7 linked regions of the Homo sapiens genome follow. The protein of the gene in region 5 purifies or fractionates together with the protein of the main gene of each other region. This does not show direct contact. Each region holds a gene or a part of one and is shown on either strand. Other genes may lie near its edges.

Region 1 (3,500 bases), on a different chromosome or scaffold from region 5:
GAAAAGGCTAGGGATATTCATTGTACTATGCTTTCAACTATTCTTCGGTTTTGAAATTTTTCAGAACAAAAATTAGTGGAGAAAGGTTCATCCTCAGTCCAGTAAGTTCCAGGAGACAGAGCCAGACCTACCTTATTCACCACTGTTTCTCCACTGCTAGCTCAATGTGTGGTCCTCATCCCACTGGCCCAGGAAACCACTGCTAATATTTCTGTGGGAACCTCCCTCCAAGCTTTTCCCTGGGCCTGAGGAAAGTTATACTGGGCATGCTGCTTTGCAACCAGGTCTCTTCAGGTAGAAACACTTTGTAACCACCTATCAGGAGAGTACATACAGTCTGCCATCCCCAACCATAGGTTGACTCCACATGCATGGATTCAACCAACAGTGGATAGAAAATATTAGAAAAACAAGAAATTGCATCTGTACTGAACATGCACAGACTTTTTTTTATTGTCATGATTCCCTAAAGAATATAGTAAAGCAGGCCGGGCACGGTGGCTCACGCCTGTAATCCCACCACTTTGGGGGGCCGAGGTGGGCGGATCACCTGAGGTCAGGAGCTCGAGACCAGCCTGGCCAACATGGCAAAACCCGGTCTCTACTAAAATTACAAAAAAAAAAAAAAAAAATTAGCCGGGTGCGGTGGCACGTGCCTGTAATCCCAGCTACTCAGGAGGCTGAAGTAGGAGAATTGCTTCAACCTGAAAGACGGAGGTTGCGGTGAGCCGAGATCGTGCCACTGCACTCCAGCCTGGGCGACAGAGCAAGATTCTGTCTCAAAAACAAAAAACAAATAACAAAAAACCCAGCAGACTGGTCAGAAAAGACTGTACAGCCACAGGGGTTTCCATGTAGGGAAATTTCTCTAGGCAAGGAGGAAAAGCCTGAAGAAGACAAGAACTGCTGAGAACAGGGCAGCAGGGAACATCCTGGACCCACCTGGGCCGCACAGGCTGGAAAGAGAGGCCGTGGCCGGGCATCCGAGCCTGGGCCCCTCACAGAGGAGGAACAAAGTGACAGGCCAGGAGAGGAGGGGAAGATGCAGGAGTGCTGGCATCTGGGGACCAGCCAGCAAGTCCTTGGAGCCCTCCCTCACCAGAAAAGGGGAAGCAGGAAGGACAGCGGCAATGGCCAGAGTGAGGAGAATGCAGCGTCCTGCAGCTCCATGGAGTGAGCGCCTCCTTCACGGAGCAGCCCTGGCCGCCCTGCAACTGAGGCCGCGGCACCGAGGGTCCCGCCAATGCAGCAAGGGGCGAGAGACACCACACCTAAGACTCAGGAGCAAGGTCCTGTCCCCGCTCCCAACCCCGGGGCTCCTGGAATCACCGAGGCAGAACTGAAAAGTGAGTGCGGGCCCCTTTCCCACATGTTCCACTGCAAAGGTCAACACACGCCAGGCGCATTTCAGTGAGGCTTCAAGTCTTCCCTGCAAATCTCATCAGCCTTTTCTGATGGCATTCAATGCACAGCGGTCACTTTCAGCTACAACCCCTTCCTACTGCAGTCGAATTAATTCCAAAAGGGAAAAAACAGGTTAAAGAATGGGACTTTAACGATGAATTTATTGCAAAAAATAAGCCCATAGCCAGAAGAATCCTGACTGGCATCCTGCTGAGACACACAGCCTCTCCTCAGCCCTCTCCAGCACGGGGAGAGGGCACTGTCACCAGCTCCGCAAACACGCAGGAGACGGGGACCTCCAGAACTAACGTCCTTGGTCTCCAGACCTACCTTCAAACCTCATCTTTAAATATTTCGAATCCCTGCGTGCTACAAGCTGACTTGAAACACAGATTGGGCCGGTCCCAGCACGGTGGCTGGTAGAGAGGGCATCTGATCTTGTCTGTGGAATGACGGAAGTCACTGGACTGTCCAGGAACTACATGCCCACCTTCATCAGATGGAAACCACACACTTGTTTATTCTGCAGGGGGCCGTGTGCTCAACAGTGAGCTGCTAATGTCAGGCTTGTCCATCTTTTTCATACACAGGCTCTACAGTACTGTCAGTTCCCAATTCTGTGGGTCCCTGTATAATCCAACTCTTTAAACAGAAACCAGGCTGGGTGCGGCGGCTCATGCCTGTAATCCCAGCACTTTGGGAGGCCGAGGCGGGAGGATCCCTTGAGACCAGAAGTTTGAGTAGCCTGGGCAACATAGTGAGACCTCATCTCAATAAATAAATTAAATAAATAAATAATGTAGGTGGTGCGCACCTGTAATCCCAGCTACTTGGGAGCCTGAGGCACGAGAATCACTTGAACCCATGAGGCGGAGGTTGCAGTGAGCCAAAATCATGCCACTGTACTCCAGCCTGCGTGACAGAACGAGACTGTCTCGAAAAAATAAATAAATAAACAAACAGAAACCAGAATCAGGTGCTCTTATAAGGGATGTGTAGCCCAGAAACTCAATCTTAACACATTCTAAATGACCTGGAATTTCTTGGAGCAAAAATTCCAGTTTAAATATCAGGAAAATTGTCTAGACTAAGAGAATGGAAACGGACTTTGTGCAACCAACATCAGGTACAGAAAAGAGACCCCAACAATCATCATGAACCCAAACAGGCCTTTCTCCTCACTAAGAGAAGAGAACACACACAACCCATGCCTTGTTACTCTTTGAGAAGATGTGCCCTGCCTGTGATCTAGCAGCTAGAGACGGAACATACAACCTGTTCTCAATATTCAAATAATTTTTTAAAGGACATGGTATCACACTGAGCAAGTGAATAATGCAATTCTGCTGTAGAAGAATGCACGGCTGAAAAGACCTGAGCAACTCATGTCCAAAACTTGCAGTTTCCACAGCAGCACTTCCTCCCAGCACACTGCCCTTTGAACCTGCTTTCTAAACAACTGTGCTGGGCAGCCCAGTGGCCACATGTCATCGCACAGCAGGTGTGGAGCAGCATAGAGCACCCTGGCCCTCGCACCTGCTTGGGGGACTGTTTCTGCACCCAGGGCTTCTCTGCAGCCACAACCTGCCCCACACAGAACTGCAGCACCACGTGGCATCCTGTCCATTTCCTCAGAAGGGGAAAGTGCCACGCCAGTGCCCACTCTCTTCCAAACACATCCTCTCAGAAGGGACTGGCCACGCTTGCCCCCTCATTTCTGCAGCGCTTCCCAGTTCATCACCTGCTTGCCAGACTCCGTCTCCCACCGGTGTCAATCAGCTGCCCTGGAGCATCTAAACCCTGGGTCAGGCGGCTCAGGGGATGAGTGCATAGACTGAAAAAGGAACACTCCCTGTTTCTCCCCAAAACTGTGCTGAAGGCAGTCTAGAGGGCCAAGACCTGTCAAGAAGAGCTGCCCAAGGCCTCTTTTCAGGCCCCACATCTCTGCAGGCTGCTGCTGGATCCTTCTCATAAGAACACATCTCAGAAAAGCAGAACAAACCACTTCCCTCTTACCACTGGGAGCTCACCTTGCCAGCTCTAGACTCAGCTTGGACTGGCTGTCAGGGCAACGTTGCGTACAGGAATACATCACA
Region 2 (3,500 bases), on a different chromosome or scaffold from region 5:
AATTTTAAGGGTCATTTTTTTTCAGTTCAATCTGAACATTCATTAGGCATCAAGCATGTACCAGACATCTGAATAGCTACTTGATGAATAGTCACTACCCCCAGGAGCTAATGGGCTAGTTGGGGAGCCAAGTACACAAACAGATAAGTTAATATAAAGCGATAAGTGATAACATAAGATTGGTAACACTTAAAATTCATGTACTTTTAAAATCTATGTCACACTTCAATTTAAGAAAAGATAAGGTAGGGATAGGGATTTAGGTGTCAGAGCACACATGAGGGGCCTTTTCTTTGACTGAGAGATTCAGGAAAAGCTTTTTGCAGAAGATGATGCCTACATTAAATCTTTCAGGATGTTTAAAAGCAAGAGACGTAAAAAGGAATACATGAAGGAGGAGAAGGGGAAAGAGAAAGGAGAAAGAGAGAATAACATGAACAAAATACAAGGCATGGATGTGTACAGGAAACTCCAAGCATATCAGCAGTTTGAGAGAGTTAACCTTAAGACAGAATTTCTAGAGAATGAGGCCAGCAAGGGAGCAGGCCTTAATATCATCCTAAGGAGATTGGTGATTCAGAACTACCAAAAGATTTTAAGACAGGGCATGACATGATCAGACGTGAAATGTGAATTATAAACAGCTCCTCTGGAAGTCCCAGTGTGAAGGATTATTTAAAATGGGGTGGGATGAGGGGTGGTTATCATTAGAGGGTAGAGACCAATGAATAGACCACTACAGTAATATGGCCAAAATAAGATAAGGGCTCTAACTAGGGCTGTGCTATTAAGGTTGGAGAGAAGAAGATGAATTTGAAAATCATTTAGGAGGCAAACATGTAGCAATCAGGAAATGGTTTTATTGGGGGAGTATAAAGAAGGATATCTAAAACAGGGGTGACAAACGAACTCATGTCAAAACTAACTGTAATTAATTGCTGGGCTTGAGCACTATAAGTTAAAAAGATTTCTGAGGCCACAGTGAGTTCAGTGGGAAAAAGTACCACAGGTGATTTGTGAACTCTACCCTGGGAATGATGGGGTAGAGTAGAGATGGGGAAGAGTAGAACATGTACCGTGTGTATTTGTCATCGCTGTTTAAGGGTGACTCCCAATTTCTGACCAGAGTGGCCTGAGAATAGTGGCACTATTAACTGTAACTGGGCATATGGGAGAAGGTATACTTTTACGTAGGGAAACTTGATGAGCTTAGTCTTAACCATGTTGATTCTGAGATCCTTGTAAGACATCCGAGTGGAGATATTTGGTGGACTGTTGACCATGTGAGGCTACACCTTAAGGGAGATCATGACTGAGAGTACAGATTTGGGAGTCAGAGGAGATAAGACAGGAGAAGAAATTCCCCCATGAGAGCACACTGAGTGAGAAAACGAGGGGCCTGGTGATAGAAGCTTCAGGTACACCAAGACTTAAGGGCAAATCAGAAGAGGGACTCATGAAGGGACAGAAAAGTTAAAAAAAAGAACCCGCAAAGTACAGTGTCATAGATGCCAGCTCTGAAGGAAAGACACAGGAATAAATGGTGGCGGGTGTGGGTGGTGCACAGTGTCAGAAGCAGCAGCATGATCCAATAAGATACGGACTAATCAGTATTCTTTAAATGCCTCCACAGGTTTTCTGGTGGGAAAGAAACCAGGCTGAAGTGTGCTTAGGGTGTGAATTTGAGGTAAGTGTAGACAGTCAGTATAGACTAGTTTTTCAGGAAGCTTAAATGAGAAGATAAGAGATAAGGCAATGAAATGGGAAGATGCAAAGTGGGCCACAAAGAACCAAAGAGACAGAAAACGGCACCTGTTCCCCAGTGCTACAGCTGTGAAGACACTGAAAGAGAAGAAGGCAAAAGTCTTTCTACTGACCCTCCCAAGGGCCCACAAGAAGCATTTTGTTTGCTTTCATTTGAGGTCTAGGCTTCCATTTTACAGTAAGCAAGTGCGTGGCCTCAGTTAGGGTATGAGCTGGACAGAGCCAAGTGATAATTCAGTGCATTCTCATCGCAAATTTGAGCTACTATCCCACAGACAGTTGTCTTCTGTTCAGCCTTGTAAATGGCTGCTGATTATAGGACAGAAACAATTAGCCCTACATTTTACAATAACTGCAATCTTTCATTAACAATGAAGAAAAAGTTCTGTGAATGCTGAATTTTCATTTTCCATAATAAATTACTAAGGGCATAGAGAAAGTTTAAGAAACATATGGCACTGTCCACCCTTGACAAACAAATAAAAAACAAAACCAAAACAAAGGAAAATGAAGATTTGAACGAGGAGTAAGCATTTGAAAATATGCATCAAGCCAAATATAAAATGTGTCTCATAAAGGAGAGGGGGGCTGTGAGTCACTAAGACTAACCCACAACAATTCTATTAATAATCTGCATTAATACCACAGGAATCCCAGGGCTGTGTTTGAAGTACAATTGTTTTAAAGAAACACATGCTGCAACAAATGAGAATAAATTTTGGGGGGTAGAGCAAAACTAAAAATCTGGGGGCTAAATAGGTCAGAGGCAGGAAAAACACAGTAATCATATTTGAAATTGCATTAGTTTCAGAAATCTAAACCACTATTAGGTTTAATAACAACAAATTTGAGATTGTGAACAGATAAACAATGACTTTGACAGAAGAATTTTTTCAAAAAAGTAAATACTGCATTTTACATGCTAATTATGCAGGCAATAAAAATATTCTTACATTCTGAGAAGAGCCTTATAAAAGGGCCGTGTGAAGAAGGCATCCAACAAATACTGGTGTATTAGTGCAAGACCAAGGATCCTACCACTGAATCGGAACCTGTGAAGGAAACACATGAGATGGCTTACATGTCATGGAGCAGTTTCTAGGTGGTTCCATATGCTTTCTAGAATGCCTTCCAGCGCTAACCATCTAAATTTTTCCAATATTAATTGCCTACTAGGTAGTGAGAATTTGTAGGCACCATGGGCTGTGTCTTCATCAGGCCAGTGGTACAGTTTGTATACTTGTCCCTGCCCAAATGTCATGTTGAATTGCAATCCCCATTGCTGGGGGTGGGGCCTGGTGGGAGGTGTTTGGATCATGGAGGCTGATCCCTTATGGCTTGGTGCTATCTTCATGATAGTGAGTTCTCATGAAATCTGGTCATATAAAAGTGTGGCACCTCCCTCCAACACACACACACACTCTCTCTCTCTCTCCCTCCTGCTTTTGTCATATGATGTGCCTGCTTCCCCTTTGCCTTCCACCATGATTGAAAAAGCTCCCTGAGACCATCCCCAAAGCCCAGTGATTTGGGTGCTATGCTTCCTGTACAGCCTGCAGAATCATGAGCCAATTAAACTTCTTTTCTTTATAAATTACCAGTCTCAGGTATTTCTTTATAGCAATGCAAGAATGGGCTAAAACAGCCAGTAATTCATACCTACTTGTTGAAGAATCAGTTTCACTCATATTTAGAGACCCTGCTCCACCTTCACTGCATATCAACAATGTAGCACC
Region 3 (3,500 bases), on a different chromosome or scaffold from region 5:
CAGGAGTTCAAGACCAACCTGGACAACAGAGTGAGACCCTGTCTCCAAAAAAAAGAAACGTATATATGTTTCATATATATTGCAACTATGTGATTTTCATATATATATGAAAAGAGAATTGTATGTATCATATATATGAAAAAACAATTGTATTTCTCAACCACAGAGCTGCCAACTATATGGACCTTATCTATTCTGATCAGTTTAATTCCACAAAGTCTGACTTGTCCAGTATATCGTAAAACAAATACCATTGATATTTATACAGATTTATAACAGCGTTTACCTGTAGCAAGATACTGTTAATGCTAAAAGTCCTTACTTATCCTTTGTAAGATGGAGCAACAGTAGATGGGACATGGGTGATGGGGCTAGTAACTAAGTTCAGATTCTGTATCTGGAAACACCAAATCATTAAAGCAGACCACTTTACCTTCCCACCTCTTAGTCCCTCTACGTATTGAAATTACATACTGATAATACCAAGAACAAATTAAAGGTGAATGTTATCGTTGTTCTTTTTAGGGGAAGATTATTAGTTGGTACTTTTGTGGCTCTTTGTTTCAACCTGTTCACGATGCTTTCTATTCGGAATAAACCTTTTGCTTATGTCTCAGAAGGTATGTTTTTTATTTACTATTAATTTAAAAATCCAACTAATCTCTCATAAAAACAAGCCTTTTGTTTGTTTCGTTCACTCAGATCAATGAAGAAGTATATTCTGAAGACAAGAGAGAACTAGCCCAAATGTTCTCAAGTCTTTTTTAAGTGGAAAATTATAAAACAAAATCTCATTAGTTCAAGCTTTAAAATAACAAATTATTTTAAAACAGGCAGGAGTGACCTGTAAATTAAATCATGTGGTGATGAAAAATTACATTTACCAAATAATGTGAGATTCTAAATGTGTAATCTATCTAAGAAAAGTCTATTGTAAGCATTTTAGAAGTATCAGTATACTTAGAATTCTTAGTTGATATGCTAATTGAAAATAATTGTATTCTGTTAATAAAGTAAGTTCCCAGGAACTTCTCTTTGGCAATGGTGGATGGGCATATATGTTTGCAAGTAGCCAAACTTTATTTCTTTGGAAATATTCTTTTATTTTGAAGTATTTACAACTTCAGACTGATTTTTCACTTTTGCAGTCTAAATTATTTTCTTTTTTCAATAATTTCAGTGTTTTGGAATCCCACTAACCCACAAAAGAGTTAGCCACTAAGAGATGGAGAAGTGAGGTGAAAATAGAAGTGGGATGTGTGCACAGACCCACACTTTGAAGTATAGAGAAGCACAGATAGGTGTGGATCTTTTTAGATCTCACTCTAGGATAGTCAAGAGAAGAAAGTTTTCTGAAATGCCCATTCAAGTTTAAACAACTTCATGAATGTTATGAAGATAAATTGTGTTTGTATGAGTTAAAGAAGTACTGCATGAATTAGAAAATTAAATAATGATAATTAAGATCACTAGAATTTCTTGAAAAAAATTCATAATTTATAAAATACTATAACACTTACTCTAGAAATTTTTAAGATGGTGCAAAGATTTAGAAACACTGTTTCCCTGTAAAGATCAGGGAGATACAAGAAGGAAATAAGACTACTGATAATCTTATGACCCACAGATAATATGTTAACATTTCTATGTTATTCCTTCCACTTTTTTGTATGCACACGTACATATAATTTTATGTGCTTACTTAGAATTGTATATATTACAGTTTTATGCCTGGCTTTTTTTTTTTTTTTTTTGAAACGGAGTCTCACTCTCTTGCCCAGGCTGGAGTGCAGTGGCGCAATCTTGGCTCACTGCAACCTCTGCCTCCTTGGTTCAAGGGGTTACAGGAATGTGCCACCATGCCTGGCTGATTTTTGTATTTTTAGCAGAGACGGGGTTTCCCCATGTTGGCCAGGCTGGTCTCACTCCTGACCTCAGGTGATCTGTCCACCTTGGCCTCCCAAAGTGCCGGGATTACAGGTGTGAGCCACTGCGTCCGGCCATGTCTGGCTTTTTGATTAGCATTATGTCTTCAGTATTGCTTCTCATTAAATACTCTTTGAATGTAAATGATTTTTTAATGTTTGCATAATATTGTTATGAATATTTTAAAATATTTTATACATTTCTAACTTTTCCTTTTATAAATAACTCTATAATCAGCCTCTTTAGATCAACTTCGTCTGCATTTTTTATTCTTTCTGTAGGATAAATTCCCCGAGAAGGAATTATTTACTGGATTAAAAATACAGTATTTTTCAAAGGCTTTGTTGTATATTGCCAAATTTATTTCCAGAAAAGTTATCTAGTTTATATTTTTATTATATTATATTATATTTATTTATTTATTTATTTTTTAATAGAGACAAAGTCTACCTGTGTTACCCAGGCTGGTCTCAAACTCCTGGGCTCAAGCAGTCCTCTCACATCAGCCTCCCAAAGTGCTGGGACGACAGGCGTGAGCCACTGCTCCCAGCCTACTTTATATTTTCATTAGCTGGAAATGGAGGTTCCCAGAAACATCAAGATTTGTGACATTAGCTGGGCTTGGTAGCATGTGCCTCTAGTCCCAGCTACTCAGGAGGCTGAGGTGGTTGTATTGCTTGAGTTCAGGAGTTTGAGTTCAGCCTGGGAAACATAGCAAGACTCTGGCTTTAAAAAAAAATGAAGGCTGGGTCTGGTGGCTCACACCTGTAATCCCAGCAGTTTGGGAGACCAAGTCAGGCGGATCACAAGGTCAGCAGTTTGAGACCGGCCTGGCCAACATGGCAAAACCCTGTCTCTACTAAAAAATTATAAAAATTAGCCGGGCATGGTGGCAGGCGCCTGTGATCCCAGCTACTTGGGAGGCTGAGGCAGGAGAATCCCTTGAACCCGGTAGGCGGAGGTTGCAGTGAGCCGAGATCACGTCATTGCACTCCTGCCTGGGTGACAAAAGTGAAACTCCATCTCAAAACAAAAAAAAAAGAAAAAAGATTTGTGAAATTACTTGAAATTTGAGTGGGAAATAATATTAAGTACTTTCTATATGCCAAGCACTGCTAAATACTTTACATAGAATAACCTATTTAATTCTAGCCAGGTAGGTACCCAGGTTCTCACCTGGCTTTTTTGAGAGTTGAGGGAATTAATTTGTATGTAGTTTGAATATCCCTTATCTGAAATGCTTGGGGCCAGAAGTGTTTCACATTTTAGATTGTCTTAGATTTCGGAGTGTTTGCATTATATGTATGGGTTGAGCATCCCAAACCTGAAAATTTAAAATTCGAAACGCTCCTATGAGCATTTCCTTTGAGTATCATGTTGGTGCTCAAAGTTGTGGATTTTTGGTTTTCAGATTTGGGATCCTCAGCCTGTACCTATGGCCCGTTCTCAGCACACTAGTTAGGAAGCTCTGCTTAAAAGTATAAAGAACTGCTGGGCATGGTGGCTCACACCTGTAATCCCAGCACTTTGGGAGGCCGAGGCAGGTGGATCACCTGAGGTCAGGAGTTCAAGAC
Region 4 (3,500 bases), on a different chromosome or scaffold from region 5:
CTAGCCTGTTAACAAACATCTAAGTGTATAGCACCGTGCTGTTAACTATAAGGACAATGTTGGACAGCAGATCTCTGGGACTCATTCATCTTGCTTTGCTGAAACTTGACACCCATTGGTTAGCAACTCCCCAAACCCCTGGCAACCACCATTCTGCTCTCTGCTTCTACATGTCTAACTGTTTCAGGTACCTCATGTACGTGGAATCATGCAGCATTTGTGCTTGTGACTGGCTCATTTCACATAGCATAATGCCCCCAATATAACAGGATTTCTCTCTCTTTTAAGACTGAATATTACTCCACTGTATACAAATACCGCATGTTCTTTATCTAGTCATCCATTGATGGGCATTGAGGTTGTTTCCATATCTTGGCTATTGTGTGCACTCACTTTGATTTGATATAAAATTGGGTTTTCAAAATGGCTGCCTTCTTCTGCCTCAGGATGCAGAAACGTCGACAGCTCCACTTGGAGCCCTAAACTCCTACCCTAAACACATACCACATGGTCCTGCCAATCACCACTGAGGGAGCTATGCTGGGGTCCTTCCAAGGCCTAGGCTTGTTCTCTTTGTGGCATTCCTTGCCTTATGGATAACAGCTCTGCCTCTGGGCAGATGCCGGGGGACTAACGCTCCCTCCTCAGTGAGCCATATAAGTTCAGAGCAGGCTGCCCATCCCTGCCAAGCCTAGAGTACCTCCCCTCCTGCTGTAAGGAGCCTAGACACTACCACACTTGTCTCCAACAGTCTCTGCTGTGCTTCCCCTTCTGGCTTCATGAGCATGAGCAGAAGTCTTACTCAGCATGTCTCACAGGACTTTCGGGATCTGAGTCCTGCCCACCTCTTCCATCTCACGATTACCACTCTTACCTCCTCTGCTTCCTCCTCCTCCGCCTATCCACCCCAGCCCAAGCTAACTGAACCACAGACATGCACTTTCTTGGAGCCACAGTATCCTTTCCTTCTCTCTGGAATGGCTTTCTCTTTTCTTTATCTACCTATCTTTTCTTTGATAGGTAGATAAGTCCTACCCATTCTTTAAAACTCAGCTCAGATATCACCTTCTCCAGGAAGCCTGCTCTGACTCCTCCAGACTGAGTGAGACAACCATTCTCCATTCTTCCACCTCTGTCCTAGCACTCACCACAGATTTTGTAAGTATCTATCTATGGTCTAGTATCCCCGCTAAGCTGCATCCTTTGAAGGTGGGACATGCCTCTATCCCCAGATACCTCATCCTTAGCCCAGTGTTTGCTGTGTTTTCCATGTTCAAAAGGTGGTAAGCGGATGGATGAATGCGTGCATGCATCTCCAACCGACTGGCCTAATGGGCCCAAACTCATGAGTGCCAGCAATGCTGGTTACTGGGGAGCATGTGCATTTCAGCCTCACATCAGGACTGCCTCAGCTACCACCTCAATTCCTGACCTGAGCTGTATTTGGCTATATGAGTGTCCAGTTCCATTGCCAAGAGCTCCTTGGAATTCTCAGGATGCCAAAAAGGCATTTGGTTCCTGCCTTCTAGGAGAGAAGAAAATTGCAAAGTGCTTTGTGCTCCCTCTCTGCCTCCCTGTTCCCATGATATAACCATCACCCTTCCTGCCATTCAGAACTCTCACTCCAACCCATCACCTTCTGAGATTAAACAGCTGGAAGTCCCAGACAGCCCTGGACTTTCCTATAAATCAGGTAACTAAAAGCTAGGGACAAGCAGCTCCCAAAGAATAGGGAAGGTAGAGGGGCAGGAAGATTTTTGACAGAAGGCGGGTCAAAGCTATGGGTACATGGTTTCAGGAAAAAGATCAACTTCCAGCCCTTGCCCTCCTCAAACCCTGCCCACTCTCTCACCCTCCCTCAGCATTTGAAAAGTCAGGGGCCCCACATTTTTCTCCTGGGCCTGATTCCTGCTCACAATCTCACCTCCCACCTCCAGTGGGCGCTGCTGAGTTAATGGCCTGAACCATGTCAGTGGTGAGAGCATCCAGTAGGCTGGTGATAAACTCCATTTTCTTCCCTTCTGGACAGCCTAAAAGATAAAATGAGATTTGAAGGTAGATGCCAGATAATAATCAAGTCAACAGCTTTCTCAACTACCATCCTTTCCTAAACTTCTCAAAGCCCTTCTTGTCCAGCCAAATCCACTTTAGTGATTTGTTTACTGATCAGATGAGTCTCATAAACTTCCATAGTTCCTTTACCCATACCCCACAAAGGACCATCAGACCAAATAATGCTTTCAATTTTCTTCCATTCCACACATTTTTGCTAGACATCAACTCAGGCACCATGTTAAACGCTAGAGATACAGAGTTAACAATACAGAAGGTCCTTATCCTTGTAAAGTTCACATCTACAGGGGAACTCAAGCTAATAGCCAAGCAGTCGTCCTAAAGTGAGAAAAATACTGTGCTAGGGGTAAGAACTAGGGGCTGTGGGAGCACAAAGGAGGGAGAGAACCCCCAGTGGTCAAAGTTGACTTAAGTACACCTACCACCAGATCCATCCAAGAGCCTCCTCCTTTTTTCACTTCCCTCCTCAACCATCTTACATTATAACTACAGCATCTCTCTTGTAAATACTCCCAAGTCCTTGTTCCTTTTTTCCTCCTTGTATTATTCCAGGAAAACACAGTAAAGCACAGAAGAACCTTCTATAGATGTGCCTTTTCCATGTCTACACCACGTAGCTGGGGAAAACACCACCACACAACTGGATAAATGGGTGTCCTATAAAGTCACGATCACCAGCACCAAATGGGCCCTCTACACTACTCCCAGTGCTCCTCTCCAAAGCAACTCCACATAGAAATTAGCAACTAGCTCATTCTCTTCTGTCCCCAAATCCTCCAGGTCTCAGGTTCAACACTTGCTTCTCAGAGAAGCTGTGGAATCTAAAGCAGGTTCTCCCTGCCATTCTCACAGCATGTTCCGCTTTTCCCTCAGAGTACCCACCACAACTATCTATAAATGCCTGTATTCATTTATTCATATCCAATCTGTCTCCTCCACTCTGTAAGTCTCATGTCAACTTTGACCACTAGATTATACCCAGTGCCTGGCACATAGTAGAATCTCAATTCACATTTGTTGAGGGGTTAGCTAAAAGGGGTACCCTGGCCACCATGACTCCATTCTTGTGATGGGGTGATTTCTACAAACCTCGTGTGGAAAATCCCTGACTCTTAGAACTCTCTGCTTTCAGTTCTCACTTGGAGTCCTGATAGGTCATGGGAAGGTGGCCCATTTCCCACCAGCACTAATCTGACTTTGTGCTGTGTAAAGACAATAAGATTCCAAGCCACCAATATTTAGTAATGTTACTGTAACTTGCAGGCAGAGATTGCTATAAATAAGGGGAAACCCGCACATCAGCCATTTGGAGGTACCAGGGCCCTGCCTATGTGTCTTGTGTCACACTCCATGGTCGTCCTGTGTCACCAGGGGTCATCTGCCTCTTCAGAGCAAGCAACAGACACTGTCCACATCGCTCAGGACAG
Region 5 (3,500 bases):
AGAAGTGCTTTGAATTTCAGATTTTTTCTGATTTTGGAATGTCTACATATACATAATGAGATATCTTTGTGATGGAACCCAGGTCTAGACATGAAATTCATTTATGTTTCATATATGCCTTATACATGCAGCCTTAAGGCAACTGTATATGATATTTTCAATGATGTGTCATGAGATCAGATGTAACAATCTTCCACTTGTGTCATCAGGTTGGAGCTAAAAAAAAGTTTTGGATTTTGAAGCATTTTGGATTTTGCTGTATTTGAACTAGAAATAAAACAGTCCTCATCACCTAAGCAATAGTTGTTCACTGGGTTTAAATTTTTTACGCTTTCTCTATGTCTCCAAAATAAATCTGAATTTAGCTTTTGTAACTATTTTTGTGAGATGACTTACCATTAATCTTCAATATTTCACCTAAAGTTACAGCACAAGTTACTGTTACAGCAGCTTGAGTAACACTAAGTAATGGTATAAAGGCTATGATATGGTATTATTTATCTACTAATTTAGGCATCATTTTGCTTCCAGTTACACCAGCCTCCTGAGTATGACAGCAACATTCCTTCAGGGATTAAAGAAAATGCTTCAGAAGATTGGAACACTGCTCAGCCTTCCCAACCTTCTTTTACCACTGATGTTTCTACCTTAGTGATCTTCCTCCTTATTTTAATGCTTCTTTCTCTTTACAATTAAAAGTTCATAAAATCTTTCAACATTATTTTTCACTACAAAAGTCTGAAGTTCTCTGTGAAATGCCTACATGTAAGAATTAAGATAGATTTTAAAGACTGTCAGTCTCAAAATTCCATGCTCATCAGTTAGTGCATGATATTAAATTATGCTTTTTTCCTCCTTTTAAATATACCAACATTATATTGCTGATTTTTTTATTTACCTGGGTAAGAGCACTGACTCGGTTCTCACTAGGAAACAAAGGTGGGTCTTCTCCAACTTGAAAATCAAAATATACAGTTTTATGTGTGAAAGTAGAAAATTCATTGCTGAAGCAAAATTTGTATGTCCCATTTTTGGAGGCTGTGAAGGTAAAACTATCATACTGTTTCTTCATCTCTTTGTATAACACTTTACCATCAGGATCTTCTAATCGACAATCTACATCATAGTGACCACCAGTAATCACCTGTAAGAGATTAAAAAAGAAAAATCACTGTGAAAAGTGTGAAAAATTAATCAGATTTAATCAGATTTCCTATTAAAATGGCAATAAGGTGATGGGCAAAGGACTTTTACTATCTTTTTAAATTTTCACCAGTGGATGGAACTTGGGAGATTTTACTTCAACTAAACTTTACAGAAACTGAACAAGTATTCTCCAACTTTTATTCACTTTGAACTAGCCAGACAACTGTGCTAATTAATGGAGATCTATTAGATCACTTAATTCTCCCAGCAACCCTACAATATACTTTTTTCCTTCCATTTGACAGACTGAAAAACTGATGTTAAATAAGCGAACTATTCAAGACTGTTCATCTAAATTAAGTGGGAAAGGCAGAACTTGAACTCCAAAGTCATATTCTTAACCTCTAAGCTTACTGCCTGCAATATTTTCCTTCTGAAAATTTTCTAACCCACTTTCCTATTAGCATCATCCAAGCACACACACAGTGAAGTAACAAGGTAGGCCAATCCTTAGGATTACACCCCATTCATACTTCTATCATAGAACTTAAGCTCATTTTACTGCCAAATTACAAATAGATTACATTTATTAAGTTCTTTTATAGTCAGTTATATGGAATTTGATATACATTTTGTTTTGAACTACACTATAAGTTGAGTAACGGAGTGGGCTATTCTAAAAGTATATAATCATTTACAACCTTGTTTTGAGGAGAGACACGTAACTGATTAAATAAAATATTGTTGAAACTCTTGTGATTAAAGCAAAAACAAAATAACATGAAGGACAACAAGTCTGTTTATCTAGAAAGCCAGTACTTAATGGCAAACATACTGAATGGAAGCCTGGAGGTAGGTGATATGAGTCTGAACAGAACTGTGGAACTACTTTCCACGGCTTATGCTTAATCAGTTACAATTCCAGCCATTTGGGTTGTACAGAGGAGGGAGAGATTTTTCCTGCGGTAACTGGATAAGTATTGTAAGAGACAAAAGGGGGAAAGGATTAAAGAGAAAGGCTTCCTTACATGAGAAAGAACTGAGTAGGAAGAAAGAGGGAGTGCAGAGAGGTGAACAGAGTGAACGTATACACATTGGGTTGAATGAAGGGTTCCCAAACCACCATGTGATTGGGGAGCACAAGATTGTTATTTTCAACCTTGAACTCTCTTGGTTAGCATCCTGACATTCTAGGTCAAACTTTGGATTTAAAAGAAGGATCTGTGTGACCTTTTCTCACTTGAGAGAAGATGACTAATGAACTATGTTACATATCATTTTGATAATCTAATGAAAATAATTATGCACTTATGAAACTGTAAAAATATGTAAATGTTAATATACAGATAAAATGTTTTGATATAAAAGTGTCTTATCAATTGGGGATTTACCAATCCCCATCCTCACCAAAAAGTCAGTAACTTTTTCTCCAGGTGAAAATAACTTCATTTTGCTATACTGAATTATACGTATTTGACCATTGTATTCTGAATAATCAAACACATACATACAAACCGAATAGCACCAGAACTTATCATCACCCCACTTCTCTTCCATCAAACTTAAAACAAGTAATCTCACTTAACAGTATCCCTTTAAACCTGTCCAATCACCTACTATTGAAACTGAGGATCATCCCAAACTAACTGTCCCTATCTATCCATATGATCACACAAATCTCTCAATCTTTTTGCCCCTCTCAAATTCATCGCATTCCGAAACCACAATCCAGACAGGACTATTGCCACAACTTCCTAAAAGGTCTTCCCACTACCCAATATCTTCTCCCTCGAACTCAGGGTTTCTCAACCTCGCATTATTCCCATTTTGAACTGAATAATTCTGTGTTGTAGGAGGCTGTATGGTCCTGTGCACTGTGACACGTTAAACAGCATACCTGGTCTCTAACTACTAGATGCAGGTAGCTGCCCTTCTCCTAAAATGATGCCGAATGTCTCCTGGGAAGAAGGGGTGCCCATCTCCCCATCTTTCCTCATTCCCCATTGAGCAATCACTTAAAAACTTTTTGATAATTACCTGTGGCCTGCAGACAAATCTAAACCTCTTAACAATGGTATACTATTCACATGTTCTTCCTCCCAGGTAGCTTCAGAACCTCTTTTATTCACACCCTTACTCGTTCTATGTTCCTAAAATACCAGACTACCAGAAATTCTCTGAACAAGTCTTTGCTTTACATCTGCACTGACAGTGCAGTTCAACAGGGTTTGCTAAAGAATCACACGGATCAAAATGACAGTGTTTGCAAATCTACAGTTTATTACTGTAGGTTATGTTATAAATCTACAGTTTATAACATTATACGACTATATATGTCTATGTAAGCTCTCTGA
Region 6 (3,500 bases), on a different chromosome or scaffold from region 5:
GAAGAATATTTTCTTGCTTCATTGTTAAGTTATTTGGTAGTGGAAAAAATGTGATAATTGTGGTAAAAATGATTGCTTGCACTGTACAAAATGACAGTGTCAAAACACAGCAATTACTGTTTCTAACAATCATAACTTGGTGAGGTGGCAGCAAATATTATTAAAAAGCTTTTAACTCTATTAGATTCTATGTACAATACCAAGAAGTATAATATCACTGCTCAGATTACATAATAGCAGAGATATATTAATAAATGGAACCTACAGCCATTTTAGAAAATGGCTGAAACAAAATGTCCTAGACTAGAGTAAAACCATGACAACGTATAAACACATCTCCACTGATAAAAAAATTTTCCACCTGACACAGCACTTTCAGCTTCCTGATATAGCTGTGTTTTTTTAAATATTAAAACTTCATACAAACCAATGCCAAAATTAACATAACTAACAGATTTTAACTTGAGATATCGGTTTCTTTTTTAGACTAGGAAATTTCACAAAAATTCATGTCAAAAAAAATTGATACATGCAGCAAAGGTTCTAAAAAGATGTGGAAACAGATGCTGGTGAGGCTGTGGAGAAGTAGGAACGCTTTTACACTGTTGGTAGGAGTGTAAATTAGTTCAACCATTGTGCAAGACAGTGTGGCGATTCCTCAAGGATCTAGAACCAGAAATACCATTTGACCCAGCAATCCCATTACTGGGTATATACCCAAAAGAATATAAATCATTCTACTATAAAGACACATGCACACATATGTTTACTGCAGCACTACTTACAATAGCAAAGACATGGAACCAACCCAAATGCCCATTAATAATAAGACTTGATAAAGAAAATGTGGTAAATATACACCATGGAATACTATACAGCCATAAAAAGGAATGAGATCAGGCTGGGCACAGTGGCTCACACCTGTAATCCTAGCACTGCGGGAGGCCGAGGCAGGAGGATCACTAGAGGTCAGGAGTTCGAAACCACCCCAGCCAACACGGTGAAACTCTGTCTCTACTAAAAGTACAAAAAAAAAATTAGCCAGGCATGGTGGTGGGTGCCTGTAATCCCAGTCACTTGGGAGGCTGAGGCAGGAGAATCCCTTGAGCCCGGGAGGCGGAGGTTGAAGTGAGCCAAGATTGCACCACTGCACTCCAGCCTGGGCAACAGAGCAAGACTCCACCTCAAAAAATAAAAAAAGTCATGTCCTTTGCAGGGACATGGATGAAGCTGGAAGCCATCATCCTTAGCAAACTAACACAGGAACAGAAAACCAAGCACCGCATATTCTCACTTATAGGTGGGAGTTGAAGAATGAGAACACATGGACACAGGGAGGGGAACAACACACACCAGGCCACTCGGGGTAGTGGGGCGAGGGGAAGGAGAGCATTAAGGTTAAATAGCTAATGCACGTGGGGCTTAAAACCTAGATGATGGGTTGATAGGTGCAGCAAACCAACATGGCACACATACCTATGTAACAAGCCTATACGTTCTGCACTTGTATCCCACAACTTGAAGTGAAATAAAAATTTTTTAAAATGTTGAAAATAAGAACATCAAAGCTGAGTCAAGTATCTCAGACTGGGGAAGTTTTTCACATATTTGAACTGTAACTCTTAGAGAACCGAGGATCAAACAATCACTTTACCATCACCAGGGTCCATAGTATAGCATTAGTTTAAGATGAATTTTATACTTTTACAAAACTTTGCAACTTTTAATTTCCAAAAGTATTTTGCACATGTCTTTTTATTTTCACAACCTGGAAGGCTACCAAAGCAAGGAATATTTTTGTTCCGATAGTTGAGAACATTAAGATACAAAACAATCAACAAACTTGCTCACTGCTACAGTGAATACCAAAGGTGACATCTGGACTAGTTTAAGACTCTTTCCAATATACTAGATATGTGACAGAATCAACTTGAGTATGTCTTAAAAGCACAGCTGCCTGGGTCTACTAATCACAGCCTCTAGGGGTGAGGACACATGCATCCACACTTTTTTTAAAGCTCTCTAAGCAATTCTTACATCCACTGAAGTCTGAGAACCAATGCAACAGATCACAGTACCAAGTGCAGGGTTGGAACCCTATCCTAGCTCTATCTCAGCCAGCCCACAGAAAGTCTTCTGAAATTAATTGGCCACGGTGCACTTGGCTCCTTTGTTAACAGTCATTGGTGCCAATGGTGGTGAAAATATAGTGTGGTTTTTAAAGCCTCTAATCATAGCATGCCCAAGAATCCAAAACATGGGGTGATTACTCAATAAAATCAAACTTTTTCTCAGCGGGTTATCATGATCACAGCACTTAATGGCAAATCAAAGATAATGAGGAGGGGGGGAACCCCAAAGAATTTCACAACCTGACACATCCATTTTAGTAAAGGAAATTACTGACAAAATTAGGAATTTGAAAAAAAGTACAATGAGCTAGGTCTTTATGTAATAAGATGGGAGGTTCTCCAAGACACACTGCTGAGTTAAAAAAAAAAATCAAGTTGCAGACCAACACATACATATAAGACCGTTTATGATATAGAGACACACACAAATCAGTATTTTGTCTATGAGTGAACAAAAAAGCATATACAAAGGTCTAGAACTGCACTGTCCAGTACAATAGTGACTAGCCACATAGGGAATTTGAATTTAAATTACTTTAAATTAAATTAAATTAGAAGTTCAGTTCTCAGTTGCACTAGCCACACTTCAAGTACTCAATAGCCCCCTGCTGCTAGAAGCCACTGGACTGGACAGCACAGATACAGGACATTTCCATCATCACAGAAAGCTCTATTGGACAGCACTGGTCTAGAAAGATATAAACTCCTAAGGGTAGTGGCCTGGCTGGGGAATGGGGGTTTAGGCAAAGTTGGGAGTAGGAGACAGAACAGGGATTGAAGAACTTCTGCCTTATCTGTCAATTCTGCTTAAATTTCCTTTTAATTTTTTTAAAAGCACTTGTCATTGCTGTATAATTTAAAAATCATTAAAAACTCAAAAGGCATATCTTTATTAAAGATATACATAAATACACAGGAAGCCTGAAAAAAAATGTAAATATCCCACTAGAAGCTCTGCATTAATGTGTATGGAGTATTAAAAACATCCCAAGGTTGGCTGCGAGCGGTGGCTCATGCCTGTAATCTCAGCACTTTGGGAGGCTGAGGCGGGTGGACCACAAGGTCAGGAGATCGAGATCATCCTGGCTAACATGGTGAAACCCCGTCTCTACTAAAAATACAAAAAATTAGCTGGGCGGGAGGCTGAGGCAAGAGAATGGCGTGAACCCAGGAGGCGGAGCTTGCAGTGAGCCAAGATCGTGCCACTGCACTCCAACCTGGGTGACAGAGCGAGACTCTGTCTCAAAAAAAAAAAAAAAAAAACCAAAAAACAAAAAACAAAAACAAACAAAAAAATCTGAAGGTTTTGAAAAGAAATGTAAACAAAAAAGCCAGGCATACCTGATCTAACCAAAGAGGTTAGTGTTT
Region 7 (3,500 bases), on a different chromosome or scaffold from region 5:
TATCACCTAACATACCATATAATTTACTTATTTATTAAGTTGTTTGTCTCGTGACACCAGAGTTTAACCTTCACAAAGGCAGTGATTTGTTTGCTTTGCTCGCTAATCTATCCCAACCATCAGAATGTGCCAGGCCATAGGTAAGCCCTTAATAAGCATTGTTAAAAGAAGGGAGGGCAACCGAGAACACAAAACCAGTAAGCTTACTTACTAGGCTTCTATCTCATTGCAGATTTGAGAAAGCAAATGAAAGAAGGGATGGGACACTACTTGAATCAGTATCTCTAAACCTGTGTTCCTTGGAGCTGAGTCTATGACAGTAATTGGCCTTGATAAAAATAGCCCTAGAAAATACTGCATATATTATCTATTTACACATTAAATATTCATATTACACATATTACACATAATCATGTTACACATTAACATACTAATTGCTATAAGAGCTCCTATAGTAACCTCTTCTTGAACTCACTTGATCATAAAACTCTCTTTTGGTAACTCACCTACCATTATGGGACCCTTTTGGCCCATGGTAAACTGAGTTTGAGAAAAATCTTACTAGAGTACTATGTGTAGGGCCTGGGAGTGATTGGCAGTTCTTTTAAATTACTTTTGGTTGATGGACTGCACTGCTTCATGTGCTACTCAGAAGGAGGCTGGAGTACATCAGGATCAAGACTCCAGCTCTTAATTACTATTATTCTTTTAAAGGTATGATGCTTCTATTTTTCTGGGAGAAATAAGAAAAAAATAATAATTAATGTTATGGCCCTTTTAAAAAGTTAGCTTCTGTTTTAGGTATTTGGGAATAAGATGATCATTCCTTCCCTGGATGGAGCCCTCTTCCAGTGGGACCAAGACCGTGAAAGCATGGAAACAGTTCCTTTCACAGTTGAATCACTTCTTGAATCTTCTTATAAATTTGGAGATGATGTTGTTTTGGTTGGAGGAAAATCTCTGACTACATATGGACTCAGTGCATATAGTGGAAAGGTAAGTGAAAATGCTGAATTTACTTTGGGGAAATCAGAGTAAATTAGGGTAGAAAAAGTAATTTATTAAACTACACTTATTATTAGTTGAGTTTTATTGTAATTTTCCCCTGAGGTTGTCATTTGTTTTAATAAGAGAACTGTGAGGTAGGAAGGGGAAACTAATAACAGAATAAATGGCAGAGCCAGGAATAGCAGGAGGAAGAGAATTCATAAATATGGTCTACTGTGTCTCAGGTGTTTTTTTTTTTTTTTTTTTTTTTGAGACAGAGTCTCACTCTGTTGCCCAGGCTGATCTCAGCTCATGGCAATCCCCACCCCCACCCCATTCCACACCCCCTCAGGTTCAAGTGGGTTCAAGCGATTCTTGTGCCTCAGCCTCCTGAGTAGCTAGGATTACAGGCACATGCCACCATGCTTGGCTAATTTTTGTATTCTTAGTAGAGACAGGGTTTTACTGTATTGCCAGGCTGGTCTCCAGCTTCTGGCCTTAAGGGATCTGCCCACTTCAGCCTCCCAAAGTGCTGGGATTATAAGCAGGAGCCACCATGCCCAGCCTCAGGTTCTTTTTTTTATACATTATTTTGCAATCTTCACAGTCTTCCTAAGTGTAACTTTCGTTTTTTTTTTTTTTTTTTTACATTTTGACAGATGAAGAACCTTATAAAGATTAATAGTAATCCTAATGATAAGAATAATTGATACTACTCATTTATAGGGTTTGATCCTATAATAAGGTGATCCAAGAGGAAAGTTTATACTCATTTTACAGATGAAGAAACTGAGACTTTAAAAGGTTCAGAAACTTCCAGGGTCACATTTAACTTAGATCTATCTGACAACAAAGTCATGCTGTTAATAATCTAGACTTTCTCCAACATTAGCTCTTAGGATATAATCATAATATAATCTGCTTCTAAGATTGGGTCTTATAAATCCATTATCAAGAGTAGCTAATTAAAAGCATCCTTTCAACCAGGCAAGGTGGCTCACACTTGTAATCCTACCACTTTGGGAGGCCAAGGTGGGTGGATCACTTGAGGCCAGGAGTTCGAGACCAGCCTGGCCAACATGGTGAAACCCCATCTCTGCTAAAAATAAAAAAATTAGCTGGGGATGGTGGCGCACGCACGCCTGTAGTCCCAGCTAGTCAGGAGGCTGAGGTACGAGAATCACTTGAACCTGGGAGGTGGAGGTTGCAGTGAGCTGAGATCACACCATTGTGACGTGTAAACGGTTTATATACAGACTTGGACTAAAATAAGGAAGAATAGAAACGTGGTCTTTTTACTCTTGCATTTTTCAACTTTAACAATTCCTTATCTAAGTGTTAGGCCCATAGCACTTTCTTGCTCTTGCAGATGCTTTTCTGCCTTCTCCACCCACCTGCATCTGCATTGTGTTGAGGAGGCCATGCCATCCTATCTGGCCGTTTTTTGAGCAAAGCACTTCAATCTCTGTTTACTTCGGTAGTCTCATCTGTAAACAACAGGATTGAACCCGATCACCTGGTTTTCCGATTTGATGTGCTGCTACATAATTCTGGTATTGTAGAAGGTATGCTTTTCGTGAGGATTTTAGTTTGGATCATATTAACTCTTCCTTTTTTCTTTAGTGAAAATTTGAGGCAGTTACTTTTGAATACAAAAAGCTCTCAGAAAAGTTTCAAATTTTTAAAAACCAAACACTTTTGTTATACAGAAACTCTAAGGTTGATTTTTTTTTTAACTCACCTGAAATTTTATTAATGATATTGTAGAAAAGCTATCACAAGTAGCTATCCATTTCTTCTTGTATATTCTATGGAAATCTCCAAAGTAAGGCTAAAATTATGTAAATCCTTAAAATCATTCCCTGAAATAAATATTCATTGGTACTGTCATTGTTCTAAATAACTCATTTTAGGAGTTGGTAATCTAACTGATGCTTCTTATGACTTGAGTACTTCATACACATTTCCTTAGTTTCCTTTCACTTTTTAAAAATTACAGATTCCTTTAATATCTCTGATCTATTATGAGTTGTCTCCTTTTACTAATTTTGTATCTAATTTTGTCTTTTCAGGTGAGGTATATCTGTTCAGCTCTGGGTTGTCGCCAATGGGATAGTGACGAAATGGAACAAGAGGAAGACATCCTGCTTCTACAGCGTACCCAAAAAACTGTTAGAGCTGTCGGACCTCGCAGTGGCAATGAGAAGTGTGTATTCAGATAATGTTGCTGTTGGTATTATTTAGAAATACACCTAATACCAAAATTTATCAGATTTCTGTTTGTGGAGATTTTGACTATTTTGTTGCCTTAAAAGCATATATATATATATTTTTTTGATACGGAGTCTTGCTCTGTCGCCCAGGCTTGAGTACAGTGGCGTGATATTGGCTCACTGCAACCTCCACCTCCTGGGTTCAAGCGAATCTCCTGCCTCTGCCTCCCGAGTACCGGGGATTACAGGCACGTGCCACCACACCCAACTAATTTTTGTATTTTTAGTAGAGACGGGGTT

The links.
Region 1: the proteins of TMED7 (region 5) and PDPK1 purify together in Homo sapiens (co-immunoprecipitation; one large-scale study listed by IntAct). This does not show direct contact.
Region 2: the proteins of TMED7 (region 5) and HECW2 purify together in Homo sapiens (affinity purification with mass spectrometry; one large-scale study listed by BioGRID and IntAct). This does not show direct contact.
Region 3: the proteins of TMED7 (region 5) and SLC30A6 purify together in Homo sapiens (affinity purification with mass spectrometry; one large-scale study listed by BioGRID and IntAct). This does not show direct contact.
Region 4: the proteins of TMED7 (region 5) and SMOC1 purify together in Homo sapiens (affinity purification with mass spectrometry; one large-scale study listed by BioGRID and IntAct). This does not show direct contact.
Region 6: the proteins of TMED7 (region 5) and OCRL purify together in Homo sapiens (co-immunoprecipitation; one large-scale study listed by IntAct). This does not show direct contact.
Region 7: the proteins of TMED7 (region 5) and EIF2AK3 purify together in Homo sapiens (affinity purification with mass spectrometry; one large-scale study listed by BioGRID and IntAct). This does not show direct contact.

Annotation. Positions count from the first base shown.
Region 1 is NC_000016.10:2,541,021-2,544,520, reverse strand, and holds part of PDPK1 (3-phosphoinositide-dependent protein kinase 1), read right to left. Parts: intron 1-3,500. UniProt on the Homo sapiens protein: Serine/threonine kinase which acts as a master kinase, phosphorylating and activating a subgroup of the AGC family of protein kinases.
Region 2 is NC_000002.12:196,223,055-196,226,554, forward strand, and holds part of HECW2 (E3 ubiquitin-protein ligase HECW2), read right to left. Parts: intron 2,817-3,500; coding exon 2,718-2,816; intron 1-2,717. UniProt on the Homo sapiens protein: E3 ubiquitin-protein ligase that mediates ubiquitination of TP73. Acts to stabilize TP73 and enhance activation of transcription by TP73. Involved in the regulation of mitotic metaphase/anaphase transition.
Region 3 is NC_000002.12:32,193,364-32,196,863, forward strand, and holds part of SLC30A6 (zinc transporter 6), read left to right. Parts: intron 1-525; coding exon 526-620; intron 621-3,500. UniProt on the Homo sapiens protein: Has probably no intrinsic transporter activity but together with SLC30A5 forms a functional zinc ion:proton antiporter heterodimer, mediating zinc entry into the lumen of organelles along the secretory pathway.
Region 4 is NC_000014.9:70,011,916-70,015,415, reverse strand, and holds part of SMOC1 (SPARC-related modular calcium-binding protein 1 isoform 1 precursor), read right to left. Parts: intron 2,031-3,500; coding exon 1,925-2,030; intron 1-1,924. UniProt on the Homo sapiens protein: Plays essential roles in both eye and limb development. Probable regulator of osteoblast differentiation.
Region 5 is NC_000005.10:115,619,537-115,623,036, forward strand, and holds part of TMED7 (transmembrane emp24 domain-containing protein 7 precursor), read right to left. Parts: intron 1,145-3,500; coding exon 899-1,144; intron 884-898; exon of another isoform or gene 532-883; intron 1-531. Other genes in the region: TMED7-TICAM2 (TRAM adaptor with GOLD domain isoform 1 precursor), read right to left, coding at 899-1,144. UniProt on the Homo sapiens protein: Potential role in vesicular protein trafficking, mainly in the early secretory pathway. Appears to play a role in the biosynthesis of secreted cargo including processing and post-translational modifications.
Region 6 is NC_000023.11:129,571,259-129,574,758, reverse strand, and holds part of OCRL (inositol polyphosphate 5-phosphatase OCRL), read right to left. Parts: intron 1-3,500. UniProt on the Homo sapiens protein: Catalyzes the hydrolysis of the 5-position phosphate of phosphatidylinositol 4,5-bisphosphate (PtdIns(4,5)P2) and phosphatidylinositol-3,4,5-bisphosphate (PtdIns(3,4,5)P3), with the greatest catalytic activity towards PtdIns(4,5)P2.
Region 7 is NC_000002.12:88,592,965-88,596,464, reverse strand, and holds part of EIF2AK3 (eukaryotic translation initiation factor 2-alpha kinase 3 isoform 1 precursor), read left to right. Parts: intron 1-801; coding exon 802-996; intron 997-2,406; exon of another isoform or gene 2,407-2,552; intron 2,553-3,059; coding exon 3,060-3,193; intron 3,194-3,500. UniProt on the Homo sapiens protein: Metabolic-stress sensing protein kinase that phosphorylates the alpha subunit of eukaryotic translation initiation factor 2 (EIF2S1/eIF-2-alpha) in response to various stress, such as unfolded protein response (UPR).